Homo sapiens: one gene and its partners. The protein of the gene in region 2 purifies or fractionates together with the protein of the main gene of each other region. This does not show direct contact. Each region holds a gene or a part of one and is shown on either strand. Other genes may lie near its edges.

Region 1 (7,272 bases), on a different chromosome or scaffold from region 2:
ACAGCCATGGAGTGTCCCTGGCAGGCAGATGGTGTGAACGCAAAGCCCAGAGCACACACCTGTCTGGAACCGCCCCAGGTGTCCGGCCGTCACGGTGAATCTGTAGCCCCACTCGGTGTTGCTCATGTCGGAGGTGAAGCGGTAATACAGAGTGTCTCCTAGGCACACAAGGATCAGAGGCCCATCAGGAACTGAAGCAACAGGGAATGGCAGCAGTGGTGTTGGGTTTCAACATTCTCCAGTAAGTTCCCTTCTCAATATTAAGTTTAAACACTGCCTGTGAAGAACCTATCTAATCGAGTATTTGTTTCACTACCTGGAAGTTCAAAATCTTTCCACTTCTGCTGAGACCCGCTGAAGCTGTGTCGGTCTTGCTGGAAGTCACTGCTGCTGGACATGGCTAACTCGTCACAGCCCTCCTCTGTGTTGCACTGAGAGTCGAATTTGATTGAGAGGTAGATGGCACCAGGAATGTGAACTTTATCCTAGGGAGGGGAAATGGAGAACACATCTGTCGATGCTGCTCACTAGACACTGACTGCAGCTGTCCCATGCCGAGTCCTGTGGCTGGACCCGGGTGTGTGAGAATGAGTGAACCACAGCCCTGGCCTCCAGGAGTGCAGAGTCCAGCTAGGGCGAGGAGCATGCACAGACTGCAAATATGGTGCGAGGGAGGCACAGCGGGGCAGGCAACACGGGGCCCCAGAGAAAGAGTGTCAGGCTGCTGTGAAGAGTGAAGAGGACAGGAGGACCCTGTTAGGAGAAGGCGGGAGTGGGAGACAAGGTGGACCTGAGTGCATGGGGTGCATTTCAGACAGGGTAACAGCCCTGTGAAGGTCTAGCATGTTCAGGGAATGGCAAGGAGCTTGGCGTGTTTGGAGTAAAGGGTGTGCTACATGGGCACGTATGCTTGGGAAGCAGGAACAGGGACAAGACCTGACTCCAGAGAGACTGGCAGGGGCAGACACTGAAGGCCCTGGGCATGAAAATGAGGCACTCAGACTCTGGACAACAGGGAAAACCCTGGAAAGCTTTGGTGAGGCTTGCACAGTGTAGCATCACTGACAGCTGGTGTGGAGCAAGGCTGGGCTGAGGCAAAAGTGAGGAAATCAGAAAGTAGCAGCAAAAGGAACCCCAGAGAAGGGCAACGGGTGTCCAGGGTCAGTGGAGAAGACAAGACCTCTTTGGGATCGAACCTGGTGGCTGACCACATGTGCCTGTATGGGACCAAGGGAGTGGGGCTGGAGCCCAGGAACATGACAAGAGAAGAGACTTGGAAGAAAGACAGGTTATACTTCTGAAAAACAAAATCTCAGCTGGCCAATAACCCAGTTCTAAATCGGTTTTCATCATCCACCTTCGCTGCTGCAGGTGCCTTCCACTCAGAAGTAGATGCCTGGGCAACTCCAACATTTCAGTTTTCTCTCCAACATTTTTAAAAGCGCTAATGGGGGCCAGGTGAGGTGGCTCACGCCTGTAATCCCAGCACTCTGGGAGGCCAAGGCGGGTGGATCACCTGAGGTCAGGAGTTAGAGACCAGCCTGGCCAATATGGTGAAACCCCGTCTCTACTAAAAATACAAAAATTAGCTGGGCATGGTGGCAGGTGCCTTTATTCCTGCTACTAGGGAGGCTGAGGCATGAGAATCACTTGAATTCGGGAGGTGGAGGTTGCAGTGAGCCGAGATCACACCACTGCACTGCAGCCTGGGCGACAGAGTGAGACTCCGTCTCAAAAAAAAGTGCTAAAGGGACTACATGGCCTTAAGTCAATGAGAATAACGGAGGCTGCCCCATTCCTGCCTCATCAAAATGCCTACCTCCCTGCCCAGGCACAAAGTTAAGGATGGAAAAGATGAGACTCTGATTCAGTTCTGGGAAATTTTAAAAAGGGGCTGTAGTATCCACGGTGGGGGCAGGTCATGAGGTGGCAGCTGAAGAGTGAGGGTCCAACCTGGACCACATTCAGACTCACTGTCTCACTGTGAAGCCAAGGACTCACTCTGAGGAGCCTGCCGCAGGGAAAGTAAAGCTCTCCTCCAGGGCTAGGTGGCCCATTTTCTTCTATTAAAACAAGAAAAGTCCGGAGAAGAGAAGACTTGCTTGTACAGAATCCCTGGCCTCAGGGAGGCAGACTGCAGTTTGTTCAAGGAAGCACTTTCCTGGACAGGTCTCTGCTGTCCAGCGGGAGAGAGCCACAGAGGGGCTGAGCATGGAGGGGCTGAGCACGGAGGGGCTGACGAGGTCTCTGCGGCTCAGTCGCTCTTATGGGGCCTGCCGGCCCCAGGCTTACCTCGAAGTTGGTGTTGTTGTTATACGGGTGTTTCGACTCCCTCACTTGCACCTCCATTCCTGGCTCCTCCATGAACTGGCATGCAGCCAGGGCCATGGTCCCCAGCATGTCCTCTCGGCAGCCCTGGAGCACTTTCTGCAGGATCTGGTGGGAAGCAGACAGATAAGGTCAGGGCCTGCAAGTGGCATCAGGAAGAAGGGACAGTTTACTTCAACCCAAGCTCCACCCAAAGGTGCTGGCATCATCTTAGACCTAGGACGAGCCTCTGTGACTCCACCACCCAAAACCAACTCCACCAGCCACCTCTCACTTGACCAGGCTCTTGGTGTCAATCAGGACACTGCAGTCCTTTCAGAATGATGCTACTTAGAGGTGGTCTGAAAGAACTAACTGAACCAATCATAAAGGGTCCTGGTCCTTGAAGGAGTCCCCAGCCAAGCAGGTGGATTGGCCTATGGATAAATAATGACCACACAATGTAATCGATGCCTGGAGTGAGGTGCAGGGTTGGGAGCTCTAGGTGGCAAGAACTGTGGGAGGACACGCCTATGCAAGGGCCTAGTAGAGGCAGGGTGGCTCCCTCTGTCCCTTCCGAAAGATAGATATGCTAGAGCAAGCCTGCCAGCACCTGCAGGGCTGCAAGGCCGGGAAAAGACCTCGAGGTCTGGTGGTGTTCTCAGATGGACAAAGCAAGGCTGAGAGGCCAAATGAACTTCCTCATGGACTGCGTGTGTGTGTGTGAAGGTGGGTGAGGGACAGGATCAAAAAGGAGCTACCGAATGTGCCTCAAGATTTCTGCACTTGGAAACTGGGAAGATGGCGACAAAGCTTTCTGGTTCAGCTGGAAATCGCGCTCAGGGCCCCTGAGTTCCTCACTAGCCCAATCCTTGGGAGAGGATACAGTGACCCTACCTTTGCTGCATTCACACCTGTCAGGGAGCTGCACAGCCACACAGGTAGCCTCGCTCCAGGAAGCACTCACTGGAGGAAGCCTGTGGGGCAGAGGAAGAACCTGGTGGGTGAGCACAAGCTCAGTCTGCATAACTACCTTCTCCCACTCATGCTTTTCTTCCAGCTGCATGAACATATCCAAAATGTAGGTCATATGGGCAGGGCCACTGAGCTCCAGGATGTCCTCGCTCACTGGCACGTGGCTAGGCCACTCGGCGAGCAGGGATGCAAGCACGTGGCGGGCGTACAGGACAGCTGTGGCCTCGTTCACTCGGAAGAGGTAGTCCCGGACAGCCCTCTTACTCTTGCAGTTCAGCTCCTTGTGCAGGAGGGCGGCGCTCTTGCTACGGCGCTGCTTGGCATAGCTCTGCTGCAGTTCGCTCTCTGTGCTGGAGATCAGCTTCTGGGTCACAGGGTTCGATTCAGCAGTGGCTTGGTCACAGCGTGCAGGCCGGGACTGCAAACCCAAGACCACCATTACAGAGGTCTAGCCTTCTTACAGTGGTGGTATGGGGTGGGGGATGGGGTGCAGATACTTTGGGTCCGAGGTCGGGTGACATACCAAGCATGGCAGGATAATCATGTCTGTATCCACAGCTTTGGCGCTCTGTTCTTCCAGCCTCAGACTCTTACTGGGCTGCCACCGCTGAGCCAGGGACCGTATCCTTTCATCTGTGGTGAGCTCATCACCATCAAACCTGCAGAAGGGCAGCACAAAGTTGAGTACCAACAGTGTAGACAGGCCAGTTTTAACCTGCACTTAAACTTGTTGGCAATGTTCTTCAGAGTTGTTCTTCTGTTAGTATCAATGACATTATCATATTCCGTGTTTTGCCAACTGGATTCACAGCCTTCACTTATGCATGGATACAGAATGCATGTATGCTCTGTGGCAGGAGATGCAAACTCTCCTGCAAAATCCATTCTCCTTTTCTATCTTTTCCATTTTTAAAATTAATTTAAATGTTTTATTTTCATTAAAAAAACATTTTTAAAAAAAATTTATTTGTTTTTTTTAGAGATGACGTGTTGGAGCTATGTTGCCCGGGCCGGCCTGGAACTCCTGGGCTCAAGCGATCCTCCTGCCTGCCTCAGCCTCCCTAGTAGCTGCGATTACAGGCTCATACCACCATGCCTGGACTCCCCTTCTCTCCTTTTTTTTTTAAATTTAACAGAGTTTAAATGAGCAAAGAGTGATCCCCGAATTGGGCAGCTCCTGAATCAGAATGGGTTCAGAGTGACTCCACTGCTGTGGTTGGAGGTTTACGAACAGAAAAAGGAAACTGACACACAGAAAACAGAAGTGAGGTACAGAAACAGCTGGAATGGTTACAGCCTGGTGTTTGCCTTATTTGAACGCAGTCTGAACAGGTGGACGACTCTGGCCGAAACTCGGTGGCCCTTCTCTCTCTCTAAAGCTCCCTGAGTTTTAGCAAGAGCCACAGTCACCCAGCTAGAGACATGGTTAGCAGCTAGATGTGCTGATGCCCCTGGGTTCTGGGCAGTGCAGGTGAGCGAGGTGGTGTGCCACCTCTGGAGTCTACTGGACTAATGGTGCACTCCCTTCTCCACCTCCCCTCTTTCCTCTGGGCTAGAACCGAGAGGTGGGGTGGCCGAGGGAGCTTTCACTCCACAAATGAGAACGCTGGGATTGCTGGGTCCCTCTGTGGAGCAGAGCTGTCACCCACCCCAGACTCTGCCTACCTCTGGACTGTTATGTGAGAGAAAAACAAATTCTATCTGCCCTGATCCATTATATTTCTGGTTTCTTAGTTACCGCAGCTTAGACTGTACCCTAACTAATGCAACCCTGCTTCACCTCATAAAGGCTTTTAGGCAATATATAAGAAACTAATAAAAGAGAAACACGAAACACAAAATAAAAGAAAAATTAAATGAGAATTTACAATGAGTAAGAAGTCAAAATTAGGATACGGGGGATGGAGGAGACTGGATTGCAGATATGTAAAGTTCTACGCAAATTAAAAAGTTGGGCCCAAAAACTAGCTCTGAACTTCCTGGCCAAGAGAAAGGGAATGTTCTTAATTTTAAAAATATCTTGAGCAGAAGTTCCTGCTCTGTGCTGTCTGCTCCCTGGGATTACACATGAGAGACATCTTGGTGCCTGCCCAATTTCTGTGTCTGTAAAATGAGTTTCCTCTCAGAGGCCGACTACAAACATAAGTTTTAAAGAGGAACCACAGTGCACTTTGAAGATGATCCAGGTAACGTAGCACAGGCCACCTCCCACCTCGCCTTACAAAGGACTAGCAACTGCTTCCCGGCCTGTCGGAGCGTCGATCGATCCAGAAGCTGCTGCCAGGAGGCGCACACCCTCCCGCCCTCACATATTCTCTCCCTGGCCACACTTCAGCTGCACGGAAATGTCCCTTACCTCTTCTGAACCTCCAGGAAGAAATAATCGGTCTTTTTCATCTGCAGTTCGTATATGGCCCGGAGAATGTGCAGAGGGGCATTGAGGGCATCATGAGCCATCTGGAGGCCAGGGGAGGACGCAGACAAGAACCATTAACAGTGCTTCAATACGGTATTGATCAACTGAACTCAAAACTGAGAAGACAATATAGCAAAAGCTGCCACAGGTTATAATTGAGGAACATTATATGGGTAGTTTAAAAAGCATATAAAATTGTAAGCACCAAAACATGGACTATAACACCTACACTACGACTGTAACTTCAAAGGAAATTATAAAACACTAAAACCCCAAAGAAATATCCTGTCAACAAAATACAATGCTGACAGTAGATACTTACCACATCGTATTCACGGCTAGCGTCTCTATAACTGTTTTACACTCAAGTTTGACAACTAGCGCATACATAGGCACTGTATTTTCTTTTGATTTTTTTTGACACAGGGTCTCACTTGGTTGCCCAGGCTGGAGTGCAGTGGTGTGATCATAGCTCATACCACTGAGTACCCAAAAGCGTAGAAAGGCAAGAGGAGTTTTAACCTGCACTTAAACTTGTCAGCAATGTTGATCAAAGTAGTTTTTCTGTTAGTATCAATGACATCATCATTTTCTGTATTTTGCCAACTGGATTCATAGCTTTTACTTATTCATGGATACAGAATTGCATGTATGCTCTGTGCCAGGGGATGCAAACTCTCCTGCAAAATCTGTAAACTTGAACTCCTGGCCTCAAGTGATCCTCCTGCCTCAGCCTCCTGGGTAGCCAGGACTACAGGCGCATGCCACACCTGGCTAGTCTTATTTTTTGTAGAGGCAGGGTCTTGCTAAGTTACCCAGGGTGGTCTTGAACTCCTGGCCTCAAGTGATCCTCCTGCCTCAGCCTCCCAAAGTGCTGGGATTACTAGTGTGAGCCACTGTGCCTGGCTGGGATTTGCTTTTTCTGACATTCTACGCTACATTCTGTTTACTCTTCATTTAGTCACAACTTCTGAAGTCCAAGCCCTCATCCTTTTCATATTGTTCTGAGGAAGAATAGATTACCTAGTAAAGGTAAGAGTGTATTTCTGAGAAACTATGAGGAAGGAACTATCGTATAGAGTTCATGGACGAGCCTTAGGGCTTTAGTAAGCCCTTGAAATTCGTGCAAAATTTTACATACATGTTTGAATGTGTATTTTATGGGGAGAGAGGACCTAAAGCTTTTGAGTTTATAACCCAAAATATTAAGAACTATTGTTGTGGGGCTTTTCTGTTCTTCTGGATCAATTCTGCACAACATAAGACTGAGTCTTTAGGAAGTGAATTCTCAGGACAGCAGACAGAAGCATTTTCATGTTTAGGCTAAAACATGGCCCGGGCCAAAGAGAAGCCATCCCTCAGAAGCCCCTCCTAAGCCACAAGATGACTCAAGAACACACCAAGAAACATATTCTGGTGGGCTCATCCAGGCCCTCAAGGGGGTCCAGCTTTTTCTGCTCTGGGTCGCCAGGGCTGCTGACTGGCCGTTCCACCTCTTCCTCTCGGTCCCCTCGCTCATCCAGCTCTAGGTCTCCGTGCTCAGCCAAAGCGTTGATCTCCTTTTTTGAGGAGTA
Region 2 (7,593 bases):
TTTAGAAAGATGCTCTTACATAAGGGAATATTATGCCCTCTGAGTTTTGTACCTTCTAATTTTATAAAGATCTGAGTTAAAAAAAAAAAACAAACTCCAAAAATAAAGTTTATCTTTTGGTGTGTGCAATGCTGCCTAAACCCAACCTCCACCCTCAGCCCATGACCCTCCCTGCTTACCACCCTGCCTTCAGCCCACTGACATGGTACCTCAGGTCTCACACCTGAAGTTCTGAAGTCCTGGCTAGTGTAATTTGCAGCACTAGTTACTCCTCTTTATTTATTTATTTTTTAATAGACAGGGTCTCACTCTGTTGTATTATTTGCCACTGCCGGATTATTTGCCATAATCCAACTCCTGGGCTCAAGTAATCCACCACAAAGTGCTGGGATCACAGGTGTGAGCCACCACCACCCCATCTAGTTACTCCTCTTGACTCTACCACCTCCCCTTGAATATTCAGTATCTAGAACTACACTGGCCGATGACAGACATTCAACCAATTCCTCTTCCTCCTTCAGCCTAGCTCCCTCCTGCTAGGCCTGCTAGGCCTCATCAGCCTGTGTCCTGCCGCTACTATATCCCAGGGAAGGAGCAGAAGAGGCAGAGCCACCACCAGTACAACCAGTGATGAACCAAGCCTCACAGAGGAGACAGGCTTTGAGAGGAGCTCGCAAGAAAAATTCCCAGGCAAGGAGAAGAGCTCGTCACTATTTCATAGTCCGCCTGAAATGTGAGGAGGGATCTGCTTGTTAGTCCCATGAATTGGCTCCTCTATAAAAGGGTATCAAGCCCATATGTAATAAAGTCAGAAGATATATCTACCTCGTTAACTCTTACCTTGAGGGGAACATGCAGTCATTTTCCCGGTACAGTCTGTTCTTAGTGATCTGATAGTGGGTCCCTAGCTTCCGTCTGACTACCTCTGCCATCATCTTCCTGGAGATGCCTCCTCGGAAAGGAGTTAGATCCTCTTCTATGACACTGGGAAAGAATGGGAGTCATCAAGGAAAGCAGGCCAAGAGAGTGGTGCCATTCCACCTACTTCCTAAGTGCATTTAGGTTTCGTATTAGAGAACACAGTAAGTGGAAGGAAAGAATCGAGAGTGAGAATGAGCAGCTCTTCCCTAGAAGCCCTGTAGGTAATCTGAAACATCAAATGCAATAAAGCAATAAAAAGTAAAAAGCGGGTCAATGTCTCTTCTTCCTCCTTCCATCTGGATTGCCCCTCCCTTGGCAGTTCTGTATTTCTCTTTCGCTACTCATGCCACACCTGTGTCCTTCTAGTCACTTCAGTCCTCCTGGCATCTCCTCCCAATCCCACAGGAGGTGAAGTTTACGCCTTACAGTCTAGCACTGACTCTCTTGTTCTGGTCTGTCTGGTCCACACTCTCCCCCACAAGCCCTTACTCTGGTAGCGTGACAGCAGTAACCAAAATTACACTATTTTGTATTCCTTTTAAAGTGAGTGCATAGTAAGTTTTCAATAAGTATCATAAGCATCCAAGGAATTTTTTGAGGAGTCAAAAATAACATAAAAAGGAGCTTAAAAGACCCTGTTATTTAGCTGATGAAGAATCTGAGACCCAGAGGAGTTGAAGTGGCTCGGCACAGGGGTAACCAGTGGGAGTACCGGCACCAACACCCAAGTCTGTTTTCAGAGTTATCTTTCTACCATACCTCATCCCGGCCCTGATGTGCATTCTCTCTCTTTTTTGAGACGGAGTCTCACTCTGTCACCCAGGCTGGGGTGCAGTGGCATGATCTGGATTCAATGCAACCTCTGCTTCCCGGGTTCAAGCGATTCTCCTGCCTCAGCCTCCCGAGTAGCTGGGATTACAGGCACGTGCCATCATGCCCAGCTAATTTTTGTATTTTTAGTAGAGACAGGGTTTCACCATGTTGGCCAGGCTGGTCTCGAAATTCTGACCTCAGGTGATCCACCTGCCTTGGCCTCTCAAAGTGCTGGGATTACAGGCATGAACCACCATGCCCAGCCTGATGTGCATTTTCTAAAGATAACCATCAGGAAATTTAGGACTAGATTCAGCGATAGATGGGTTTATTTCCTCAACAATATTTATCGAGCACGCACTGACAGCTAGCACCAGGGAGACAACAGCAAATAAGACACAGACCCTGACCTCAGGAAGCTTGCAGCCCAGTGGGAAAAACAGATGCACATGCACTGAATCCCGCAGTGAGTCAGTGGTTAGGTTGACACCACCTGAGCCTTTCCCATGCGAGAGCATTTTTATTCCCCAGAAATAGAAAAACATCCTTGCCTTTCTGACCACTGCAACCAAAATCTCTCAAGGATGTTAGAATACTTCCTGTGACAGCAACTAAACTCTCAAAGACACATCAAAGAAAAGAACTCACCCATGGTAGCAGCTGCAGTTTTGACTTGAACATGGTTCGTAATTCTCCAAAGACCTGTTAATTTGGTCAATAAATACTTTCCATTTTGAACCTTTAAAAAGTGAAGTAAATGAGAGTTAAAAAAATTTTCCTGAATGTTATTTGCTGACACCACACCAACAGAAGAAACAGAAGACCAAAACTTTCAGAAATCCCCTTCCCATCCCACTGATGGAAACGAAACGCTAGGGAGGAATTTTTGTGTGTGCAACTCCCACGCTCACGTCAAGTCTGTTCCTCTATCCGGCTGTCAGGTGTCCAAGAAACTGGAAAATTCCCAAGCTTAATGCTCAACCCTCAGAATGCTATGGATAGTGACGCGGACTCTCACTTTCTACTAATCAAATTGAACTCCACAAAGAGGATCAGTTAAAAGCTACAGACATTAAACCCCTCTTCTCTTCTGGCAACGCATATACACACACGCTCGCGCGCACGACATTTGCCCCCATCCCCGACCCCTCAGTGTTTCAGGCAGGTCCAGAGTAGCCAAGCACGGGCCACGCCTCCTGCGGGTGAACGGGGAATTCCCTCTCCTCCCTGTCATTCTGAATTCCGGGGAATGGGTTACTCTCCAGGGTCCAGAGCAGGAGCAGAGACCCCGGCACCTCACTCTCCGCCGCAAGGCGCCCCGGTGCCTTCTGCCCAGCTCCGAGCTACAGCGGCCACGGCATCTTCCCGGGAGCCGGCCGCGCGGGGGAGCGCCTCGGGACTCCGGCCAGACCCCGAGCCCAAGGGGCAGGCTCGGCACTGCCCGGAGCCCACCTGACTCCTTCTGGCGGCCCTGCGCTGAGGGCAGGAGGAACAACAGCAGCCAGAGCCGAAGCGGCGAGCTAGCCCACCACTCCATCGCCGGCAGACCTACTGCAGATTCCCCGCTGCGGCGCTGGCGGAAGCGCGGCCCCGCACAAAGATGGCCCGGGAGCCGCAGCACGTGGGCGGCGGGTCGCCCCGCACAAAGATGGCCACCGTGGCCCCACCACCCTTCCTCCAGTCCCCAGCCTTGAGGCGGAGTTTCCCTGAGAAGGCTGCGCCGGGAAGGTGGGGAGGATAAACGAATGGACCAGTTGCCTATCCTCCCTCCCTGGCACCCCTGGGAAAATAGGTCTGCAGCCAGAAAACTGAAGGTCAGAGAGGGTATGTTTCACGGTTAGTGGCACAACCAAGACTTGGCATAGAGCCTAGGCCAAACAGTTCTTCTCTTGACGTCAAATTGCCTCTTATCAAATAGCATAAATTTGTTGAGCATGTGTGTGTGTGTGTGTGTGTGTGTGTGTGTGTGTGTACAGCACGGTTAGACCCCAAAGGTTGCAATTAGCATAGCAGGGATCCCTTTGTAATAGGAATTTATAACAGTTGGGGTGACTTAGACGTAGGAAAAAAGATCAATGGTGTTAAATAAAGTTTATGGGAGGTCGTTGTTTTGGACAGAACTCTGGCACTAGGCCTCAAGAGAGCAGACAAAACCAGAATGGAGGCAACTTGTCCTAGGTGCTGCGTAATTAAACTCAGCTTTAAAAGGGGTCAGTTTTCCAACAAATAGGAGAAGGGGCCCATATACCTGAGCTGGCATGATAAAGAAGTCCCCTCTGATGTAACTCTTTGAGGAAAGTAACTTCAAAATGACCAATCTGCTTTTTGTTCCTTATTTCTGCTTTCTTCAGCCCTTTTCTGCCTATAAGCCCAACCCCTTCTGCTCAGCTCATTAGAACACTTTTCTGTTTTATAGATGAGATGCTGCCTGATTCATGAATCACTAATAAAAGCCAATTCGATTTTTTTTTTTTTTTGAGACAGAGGACAGTCTAACTCTGTTGCCCAGCCTGGAGTGCAGTGGCACAATCTTGGCTCACTATGACGTCTGCCTCCCGGGTTCAAGCAATTCTTCTGTCTCAGTCTCCCGAGTAGCTGGGATTACAGGAGTGTGTCACCATGCCCGGGTAATTTTTGTATTTTTAGTAAAGACAGGGTTTCACCGTGTTGGCCAGGTTGGTCTCAAACTCCTGACCTCAGGTGATCTGCCCACCTCGGCCTCCCAAAGTGCTGGGATTACAGGCGTGAGCCACCATGCCTGGCCAAGAACTTTAAACTAAATTTGATGAAATTTTGTTTCTTGACAGTGGGCAACATGATACTGGACAATATAGGTATATAGTATAGTACAGGTATATATCTTTATACAGGTATATATAGGTCAGTGTAGATATATTTAGTAATCATAGAACTACAAATATTTATCTATTTTCTTTTTTTTTTTTTTTTTTGAGATGGAGTTTCGCTCTTGTTGCCCAGGCTGGAGTGCAATGGTTCAATATCGGCTCACCACAACCTCCGCCTCCTGGGTTCAAGCAATTCTCCTGCCTCAGCCTCCTGAGTAGGTGGATTACAGGCTTGCGCCACCACACCCGGCTAATTTTGTATTTTTAGTAGAGATGGGGTTTCTCCATATTTGTCAGGCTGGTCTCGAACTCCCGACCTCCGGTGATCCACCAGCCTCGACCTCCCAAAGTGCTGGGATTGCAGGCGTGAGCCACTGCGCCCAGCAATATTTATCTATTTTCTAAAATGTACATGGTTATATCCCTAAGCCTTGTGGAAATATGGAAATACAGGGAAGTACAAGATCAAATCTGTGCTCCCAGGAGTTTAGAACTAGTAGGGAAGACAAATATGCTTCCTTAGAGATAGTTTACAATTTAAGGCAATAGTTAAGTGCCACTGGTTTCAGTGGAGGAAAAGATCAATATGAAGTGGAAATCTGGAGAAAGGGGTAGGAGGGGTATATTTTGTACTGAAGAAAAGGAAACGTTACAGTTAAGGAATATTGTGCTGGAGTCACTAAAAATATGGGAGCCATAATTTGCAGAAGGTGGGGATCAAATTTAGCTTGACAGTAGTGGAGGCTTTAGGATGCACGTTAAGGAATGGTGGAAGAGAAAATAATGTTGATTACCTAGGAATGGGCCGTATCGGTCACATATTACACCCATATGGGCATTTGGTCTATATTCCACCAGGGCAGAACCACCCAGTTTTTGTATGAGTGAGGCTCACTTTGGGTGAACAGACAGGAAAAAAAATGTATATCCAAAACTATAGCATATTTCTTCTGGAATCCAAATGAAACTTTAGTCAAAAATTTTTCTACTTCCAGGAAGGTGTGCAGTACAGTCATGTGTTGTTTGACAATGGGAATATGTTTTGAGAAATGTGTCAGGCAATTTTGTTGTGTGAACATCATAGATTATACTTACACAAACCTAGCTAGTATAGCCTACTACATACTGAGGATATTTGGCATAGCCTATTGCTCCTAGGCTACAAACCTATTCAGCATGTTACTGTACTGAATATTACAGGCAATTGTAACACAATGGTAAGTATTGGTGTATCTAAACATTGAAAAGGTACAGTAAATGAGTAAAAATGATACACCTGTATAAGGCACTTACCATGAATGGAGCTTGCAGGACTGAAAGTTGCTCTGGATAAGTCAGTGAGTGGTGAGTAAATGTGAACACCTAGAACATTACGCTACTATAGATTTTATAAACACTGTACAGTTAGACCATACTAAACTTATAAACACGTTTTTCTTTCTTCAGTAATAAATTAGCTTATTGTAACTTTTTTACTGTACAAACCTTTTTTTTTCAACTTTTTGACTTTGTAATAACACTTAGCTTAAAACACAAGCACATTGTACAGCCATACAAAAATATTTTTTCTTTCTTTCTTTTCCTTCCTTCCTCCCTCCCTCCCTCCTTTCTTTTCTTTTCTTTTTTTTTTTTTGAGACAGTCTCGCTTTGTTGCCCAGGCTAGAGTGCAGTGGTGCTATCTCAGCTGACTGCAACCTCTGCCTCCCAGGTTCAAGCAATTCTCGTGCCTCAGCCTCCTGAGTAGCTGGCATTACAGGTGTACACCATAACACCTGGCTAATTTTTGTATTTTTAGTAGAGACAGGGTTTCGCCATGTTGGCCAGGCTGCTGTCAAACTCCTGGCCTCCCAAAGTGTGGGGATTATAGGCATGAGCCACTGCATCCGACCTATTTTCTTTATTTCTATCTTTATTCTATAAGCTTTTTTCTATTTCTAAAATGTTTTATTTTGTTTTTTACTTTTTAAACTATTTTATTGAAAACTAATATGCAAACACACACGTGTGTGTTTGGGTCAGGCCTATGCAGGGTCAGGATCATCAATATCACCATCTTTCACCTCCACATCTTGTCCCTCTGGAAGATCTTCAGGGTCAAGAACACACATGGAACTGCCATCTCCTAGGATAACAATGCCTTCTTCTGGAATACCTTCTGAAAGACCTGCCTGAGGTTGTTTTACAGTTAACTTTCATTTTTTTAAAATAAGTAGAAGGAGTACAATCTAAAATAACAATAAATGTATAGTATAGTAAATATATAAACCAGTAACAAAGTAATTTATTATCATTATTTAGTATGTTATACTGTACATAATTGTATGTGCTATACTTTTATACAACTGGTAGTGCAGGTTTGTGTACACCAGGATACATTGCACTACAACATAAAGACAGCTACATCATTAGGCAATAGGAGTTTTTCAGTTTTATTATACTCTCATGGGCTCACCATCATTTATGTGGTCTTTCATTGAAACATCATTATGGGACACATGACTGTATTTAAAAATGAAAAAAAAACCAGAATGGTTGTACGAGTACTGGAAGTACAGTTTCTACTGAATGAGTGTTGGTTTTGCACCATCATAAAGTTGAAAAATTGTGAGTCAAACCATCCTAAGTTGGAGACTTGTGTGTATTCCTAAGTGACAGCTCTGTGGTACATTAGGACATTAGGAATATTTGGGAATATTAGCAACTTTACTGGTTTCGATATCAGTCATTCTGGCTCTAAATTCTGGTTCTGGCTCTTATTAGCCAGGCTATTTTCTTTTTTTTCTATTATTATTATTATTATTTTTGAGACAGGGTCTCTCTCTGTTGCCCAGGCTGGAGTGCAGTGGCACAATCTCGGCTCACTGCAAACTTGACCTCCAGGGCTCAAGTGATCCTCCCACCTCAGCCTCCCAAGTAGCTGGGACTACAGGTGTGAGCCACCATGCCCGATTTATTTTTTTACTTTTTTCATAGAGACAAGGTTCCACTATATTGCTCAGGGTGGTCTCAAACT
Region 3 (7,272 bases), on a different chromosome or scaffold from region 2:
CCTCATTCATGGCTTTAGACTGGATGCACATGCGGTACTGCTCGGGGGTCAGCTCATCAGCACAGCGCTTTTCATGCCAGAGGTGGAAAAGACCAGGAACCGGAGTCCGAATCACAATGAGGTCACCATGTAAGTATTTTCGATAAAGATGAACATCTTCTCCACCCCAACCTTTCACTTCCATGTCAAATCCACCTGTAAGATCAAAATTGACACTATAAATAACTGCCTATTATTAGCCAGAGCACAGGGATATATATAAAATTTTAAATGTTCTGCTTCAAAAGGGATGGGATGGTTCAGCAAAAAGGTAGCACGAGACACCTGGCATGGAGGAGTGACTCCCAGTCACCGGAAGTCCAGTTTTGAGCTGACACTTGGACTCAAGGAGCTCAAGGTTGGTTGTTGACAGTATCAAAATGGGGTTAAATATTTAAGAACACTTTGTAAATTTCAAAGTCCTGTAGAAAATCTACAAAAAGTCAAATAAAGGAGAAGAAAATACAAGTCACCTATAATCTCACCACCATTAACTTTTTATGTTTTCTTTTTTTTTTTGTTTTTTTTTTTGAGACAGGGTCTCACTCTGTCACCCAGGCTGGAGTGCAGTGGTGTGATCATGGCTCACTGCAGCATCGACCTCCGTGGCTCAGGCGATCCTCCCATCTCAGCCCCGAGTAGCTGGGACCACAGGCGCATGTCACCATACTCAGCTTTTTTTTTTTTTTTGGTGGAGATGGGGTATCACCATGTTGCCCAGGCTGGTCTCGAACTTTGGGTTCAAGTGTTCCGCCCACTTGGCTTCCCAAAGTGCTGGATTGCAGGCATTAGCCACTGCGACCAGCCACATTTTCTGTCCTTTGAGACACACGCTTTTCTGGGCTATAGAAAAACTCCCCAGAGTGGAAAAAGAAGAAAGGGCCAAGCTGGAGATATAAATTTGAGAATGGGTCCATAGATTATTTAAAGCTACAGGAATGAATGAAATTACTGAAGGAATTTGGAAGGAAAACAGGGCCTAGGTCTAAACACTAAGAAATGCCAATTTCTAGAGGTTAAATAGAGGTAAAGAAAGTTAAGTCAGGAAATGAGATTGAGAAGTGGCCCCAGGTGAGGGAGAAAATTCTGGAAAAGGTGCCATTGTAGTAGCCACGTGAAGAAAGTGTCTTGAGGAAGAAGTTGTCAAGTGTGTGCTATTCAGTGAAGAATTTAAGAAGAACTGACTGGACCTGGCAGCATAAATGTTACTTATAAACTTCCCCAGAACAATTCTGATAGAGTGATGGGGCAGAAGGCTAACTGGAGTGGGCTGCTGCAGGAAGTCAGGGACCCCGAATGGAGGGACTGGCTGAAGCCATGGCAGAAGAACATAAATTGTGAAGATTTCATGGACATTTATTAGTTCCCCAAATTAATACTTTTATAATTTCTTACTCCTGTCTTTACTGCAATCTCTGAACATAAATTGTGAAGATTTCATGGACATTTATCACTTCCCCAATCAATACCCTTGTGATTGCCTGTCTTTACTTTAATCTCTTAATCCCGTCATCTTCGTAAGCTTGAACTCCTGACCTCAGATGATCCACTCACTTCGGCCTCCCAAAGTGCTGGGATTACAGGCGTGAGCCACCGTGCCTGGCCTGTCAAATAATTTTTATTTTTCAGAGATGTGTTCTCACTCTGTTGCCCAGGCTGGAGTGCAGAGGTGCAATCATAGCTCACTGCAGCCTCCATCTCCTGGGCTCAAGTGATCCTTCTGCCTTAGCCTCCTTAGTAAGTGGGACCACAAGTTCGAGCCACCATGCCCGGCTCCTGTCAAATAATTCTATCCCACTTAATTTCACATTAACAGGATGGACAATAATCTGGGGATCTCTGAAAAGTATTAAACAATCAGAGCTTTACTAAATGCTATGTCTGATACATATCAGCTTTTCTTCCTTGTAGATATAAGCTCTTAGAATATTAGAGATGGTACATATACTTAAAACAAATGGGGCATTCTCAGTTTCTGGTCTGGCATGCCTGGAGCTAGAAGTCATCACTCCATCCTAACAAGTCAAAAGCTGAACACTGAAAAAGCAACAACTCCTCTTAGGTCTCTCACAGAGAAGTGAGGTCACAGGGTAAACCACTGCCCTCAAAACTGGTGAGACAGATAGGCAGATACAAAGAATTCCAACTTACTGGAGCAGAAATCTCTGTGGGGACCAGTACCCAGGTAGGAAAACCCTAACTGTAATCGACAAATTGCTGGAGGCTCAGGGGAGGTAAGTCTGAGTGTTAAAAACTCCAGGGGGACCTGGTCATATTGGGACCCCCATACTCATGTGAGTTTTACCTCTAGGAGCTCTATTAGGTCCTCAGTGGTGAAGATCAGAGAAAAATCTCTTAATGCGTCCAGCAGTGGGGAAGGGGAAAAGGTAATCATTTTAAAGTATGCCACAGCATGTTGTCATTATTAACAAAGCCTGTCCTTAGGAGAAGTTATTTAACCAGAGCCTAACCTGCTGGGGTTTTATCAGTGCCTAACTGACTTGGAGGAAGAAATCTACCCAACTAGAGCCCCTTCTAGTCATCCTGTCCAGGAGAGGAGGGGAGACTGAGAAGCATGTGTGAAATTCAGAGTCTGGGATACAGGATCACTAAGAGATTGAGACTTACTTATGGGACTACAGAACACTTCCGCTCCCTCCACACTTCACCACCACATCATCAAAGGCCTATTTATTGCAGTTCCTTTTACGCAGTATATCAAGTCCAACTTTCAACAGAAAACATGACAAGGTATACTAAAAGTTAAGAAAAACACAGTATGAACAGACAGAGCATGTACCAGATCCAGATTCAGATACAGCAGGGATGTTGGAATTATCAGGCTGGGAATTTAAAACAACTATGTATAATACTCTAAGGGCTCTAATGGAAAGAGCAGATAACACACAAGATGCGGAACATAAGCAGTGAGATGGATCTAAGGAATTTAAAAAAATGCTAGAGATCAAAAACACTGCGAAATAAATGAATGCCTTAGATGGGTTCATTAGTAGACCGGACTTAGCTTAAGAAACAATCTCTGAGCTTGAGGATATGACAATAAAAATTTCCAAAACAGAAAATCAAAGAAAAAAAAAGACTGAAAATAAAATGAACAAAATATCTAAGAACGGTGGGACAACTACAAAAGATGTAACATATGTATAATGGGAATACCAGGAAGAAAGGAAACAAGGGAACAGAAGCTCCAAATAAAGAGTCTAAGTTCTAAACAGGTGCAGCTCTTTTTCACCCAGCCCACAGCAACAGGGTGGAGGCTCCACTTCCAGGTGTGGCCAGCTGAGAATACTGGGGGTCCTCCTGCCCCTACCCAGTGTCCTGCTCATAGGGCAGAGGTGGTCACTCTGCTTAATAAGTGTGTCACTGTCCCCATCCTCAGGGCAAAACCTCATGGATTTTTTCCCCCGGGGGAGAGGAAGTCCATAAGAACAAAGTGCTCCAAAGTTCTTCCCTAAGGAACTGACTTTATTTAAAATAGAATGTAGAGAAGTTCAGAGTTTAGAGAAGTTCCAGCCTCTTGAAAATAATGGAGATTTTGGTAGTAAGCAATTAAGAGGAGGCTGGTAACTCCAGGAGGGCAACAGCTAAACTGTAGGCCAGCTAATTTACTAGAGAGAACCACAGAGAGAGATAGTAAGAATATACCTCCTGGGGTCTGAACAAATCTCAAAGACTTGCTGCAAAAACTATCCCTGCAAAAGGGCCCAATTTAGTAGGGACAGATTATGGAGCAATTTATGCCCCAGAGCATTGTCAAAAACAAGACAGCAATTAGTGAACAGTCAGTGGAGTCTAATAGGAGTGATACCAATGGAGGCATGGAAAGAGATAAAGAGAGCCCTGCTAAATCCAATGCCATCCTAGGATAACTGCACAGGCCCTGAGGAGCAACAGCAGAGGCTTCATATTGCCAAAAGGTCGGGGAAGGAGGAAGAAATAATTTGTTAAAATAGTCCAGCCATGTCAATAAATAAATAAACAAGGAAAAAAAAAAACCAAGCCGTGGTGGTAGAGGGAAATCAGTATCCAGAGTTGCCACAGTGTATTACCTAAAATGTCTAGTTTTCGAAAAAGAAATAATGAGGAATGCAAAGAAACAAGAAGATGTGACATACGCTTAAAAAAAAAAAAAAAACCGGCAAGCAACAAAAACTGCCTGTGTTAGGGCCCAGACATTAGCTTTAATACACAAAAATTCCAAAGCAGCCATTGTAAGTATGTTCAAAGAATTAAAAGAAGTCACACTTAAGGAAGTAACAGAAGATGACAATGTTTCATCACATAGAGTATTAATAAAGAAATTATATATATATCAAAAGAACCACATAGAAATTCTGAAGTTAAAAACTATAGTAACTGAAATAAAAATTCATTAGAGTAGCTCAACAGTAGATCTAACAGAAAAAACAATCAGAGAACTTGGATAGATCAATAGAAATTATGCAATCTGAAGAACAGAGGGAGAAAAGAATGAAGAGAAATAAACAGAGCCTAAGAAAAATGTGGGATACCATTAAATGTACCAACATACATACAGTGAGTGTCAAAGGAGAAAACTATGAGAATGGAGCAGAAAAAGTATTCAAAGAAATACAGTCAGCCCTCCATATGCATGAGTTCCACATCCCATAGAATCAACCAACATGGTTCAAAAATATTAGGGAAAAAAACGATAAAAAATAACAATAAATATAAAAATTTAAATACAATATAACAACTATTTACATAGTATTTACATTGTATTAGGGTTTTTTTTTTTTTTTTTTGATGGAGTCTCACTCTGTTGCCCAGGCTGGAGTGCAGTGGTGCAATCTCGGCTCACTGCAAACTCCGCCTCCCAGGTTCATGCCATTCTCCTGCCTCAGCCTCCCAAGTAGCTGGGACTACAGGCGCCTGCCACCACGCCTGGCTAATTTTTGTATTTTTAGTAGAGACAGGGTTTTACCTTGTTAGCCAGGATGATCTTGATCTCCTGACCTCGTGATCTGCCCGCCTCGGCCTCCCAAAGTGCTGGGATTACAGGCGTGAGCCACCGTGCCTGGCCTGTATTAGGTATTATAAGCAATCTAGAGATGGTTTAAAGTATATGGGCAGATATGCACAGGTAATATGAAAATATGTATATTTACATAAGGGACTTGATCGACCATGGATTTTGGTTCCACATGGTATCCTGGATCCAATCCCATGCAGGTACTGAGAGATGACTATAATGGCTGAAACTTCCCAAATTTGATGAAAAACATTAATGTACATATTCAAGAAGCCCAAGAAACTCCATAACCCAATTAAAATGGGCAAAGGATCTGAACAGACATTTCACTAAAGATATACAAATGGCCAATAAACACATCAAGAGATGCTCAACAACATTAATCATAAGAAAAATTATAATCAGAGTCACAATCAATACCACATCCACTATCATGGGTGATACTAGAAACAAAAAGATAATAACATGTATTAATGAGGATGTGGGGAAACTGGAACTCCTAAACACTGCTGGTGGGAATGTAAAATGATGCAGCCACTTTGGAAAACGGTGTGGCAATTTCTCAAAAGGTCAAACACAGGATTACCATATGACCCAGCCAGAGTCCTGGGCATATGTCCAAGAGAATTGAAAATCTATGTCCACCCAAAAAGTTAAACACAAATGTTCACAGCAGCAGTATTTATAATAGCCAAAAAGTAGAAACAACTCAAATGCATATAAACTGACAAATGGAGAAACAAAATGTGGTATAACCACACAATAGAACATTTTTTGGCTATAAAAAGGAATGAAGTACCTAACATGTCACAACATGGATGAACTTTGAAAACATTATGTGAGTGAAAGAAGCCAGTCATAAAAGGCCACATATTGTACAATTTGCTTTCTATTAAATTCCCAGAAGAGGCAAATCTATAGGAAGTAGACCAGTAGATGCCTAAGTTTGGGGGGAAAGAGGGTTGGTAGGATGTGAGGAGTGATTGTTAATGGGTATGGGATTTCTTTTTGGGGTGAAATGCTCTAAATTTGATGGTGGTGATAGCTACATGACCTGGTTAACCGTACACTTTAAATTAATAAATTTTATGATATGTAAACTATATCTCAATAAAATTGTCATAAAAAAGAGATAAGGAACTCAAAGCATTCAAGATACTGAAAAAATGTACACAAATCTATTTTTGAGGAATAGTGAAATGCTGCTTGCTTAACTAAGCAAGAAATCAAGGAAAAGAGCATCAGTTTAATTTAACGCCCCTTTTATTGTTATTTCCTGATTTTCCATTATTCAAGTGTTACAATGATAAGGAGACAAGGTGGGGGGATTTCCAAAACAAAAGGCTGGTTATAAAAACGAATGTGATATGGACCTAGAATGTATATAAAATATATTCTATGACTTCTATGCTGTAGAAAGGTAGCTAGCCCTAAATGAATCAGAAGACATGGAATCAGGTTTCAGCCTGCTTTATTAAACTATTCTTTGACACTTTATATTTTGCTGGGTAAGACTGAAGCTAGGGGCTGGGCATGGTGGCTCACGCCTGCAATCCCAGCACTTTGGGAGGCCAAGGTGGGCAGATTGCTTGAACCCAGGAGTTCAAGACCAGCCTAGGCAATATAATGAAGCTCCGCCTCTACAAAACAAACAAAAAAATTAACTGGGTGTGGTGGTGCACGCCTGTGGTCACAGCTACTTGGGGATTGAGGTAGGAGGATCGCTTGAGCCTGGGAGGCAGAGGCTGCAGTGAGCCAAGATTGTGCCACTGCTCTTCAGCCTGGACAACAGAGCATGCAGGATAGTTAGAACAAATTATTCATGGGCCATCTTTAGGCTTAGGGGAATGCATGACTAAGGTGTGATTCCAAGACGCGCTAGAAAGAGCAGGTCTTCTTTCATTTGTATTAAATACTGGGATTTTGTGTAACAGTTCACTAGACAAGTAAAGGAGGTTTCATCTCAAAAAAATGTGAAAGTCCTTGGTCTAGATAACCAAGATTACTCCCAGCTGTAACAACCCATGGGCACAACAGTAAAGTTATAGAGAAAGCTTTTGTAAGACTACTCTAAACACCTGCAACTATGGGTAACAAGTTAAACAGATATTTTTAAAAACAGGTGTTTTGATTTTAAAGGAACAAGTAAATATTATACTTTATTTTTATGACCATTTTTTTCCTATTCAAAACATTAATTATAAACTTATTTTGCCTTT

What was found.
Region 1: the proteins of POGLUT1 (region 2) and ZZEF1 purify together in Homo sapiens (affinity purification with mass spectrometry; 3 studies listed by BioGRID and IntAct, with this or other methods). This does not show direct contact.
Region 3: the proteins of POGLUT1 (region 2) and CSGALNACT2 purify together in Homo sapiens (affinity purification with mass spectrometry; 4 studies listed by BioGRID and IntAct, with this or other methods). This does not show direct contact.

What each region holds. Positions count from the first base shown.
Region 1 is NC_000017.11:4,014,031-4,021,302, forward strand, and holds part of ZZEF1 (zinc finger ZZ-type and EF-hand domain-containing protein 1), read right to left. Parts: coding exon 7,099-7,272; intron 5,740-7,098; coding exon 5,639-5,739; intron 3,942-5,638; coding exon 3,806-3,941; intron 3,701-3,805; coding exon 3,341-3,700; intron 2,745-3,340; exon of another isoform or gene 2,603-2,744; intron 2,437-2,602; coding exon 2,293-2,436; intron 486-2,292; coding exon 317-485; intron 159-316; coding exon 60-158; intron 1-59. UniProt on the Homo sapiens protein: Histone H3 reader which may act as a transcriptional coactivator for KLF6 and KLF9 transcription factors.
Region 2 is NC_000003.12:119,464,700-119,472,292, reverse strand, and holds the start of POGLUT1 (protein O-glucosyltransferase 1 precursor), read right to left. Parts: upstream 3,331-7,593; 5' UTR 3,272-3,330; coding exon 3,187-3,271; intron 2,474-3,186; coding exon 2,383-2,473; intron 985-2,382; coding exon 841-984; intron 1-840. UniProt on the Homo sapiens protein: Dual specificity glycosyltransferase that catalyzes the transfer of glucose and xylose from UDP-glucose and UDP-xylose, respectively, to a serine residue found in the consensus sequence of C-X-S-X-P-C.
Region 3 is NC_000010.11:43,176,173-43,183,444, reverse strand, and holds part of CSGALNACT2 (chondroitin sulfate N-acetylgalactosaminyltransferase 2), read right to left. Parts: intron 196-7,272; coding exon 1-195. UniProt on the Homo sapiens protein: Transfers 1,4-N-acetylgalactosamine (GalNAc) from UDP-GalNAc to the non-reducing end of glucuronic acid (GlcUA). Required for addition of the first GalNAc to the core tetrasaccharide linker and for elongation of chondroitin chains.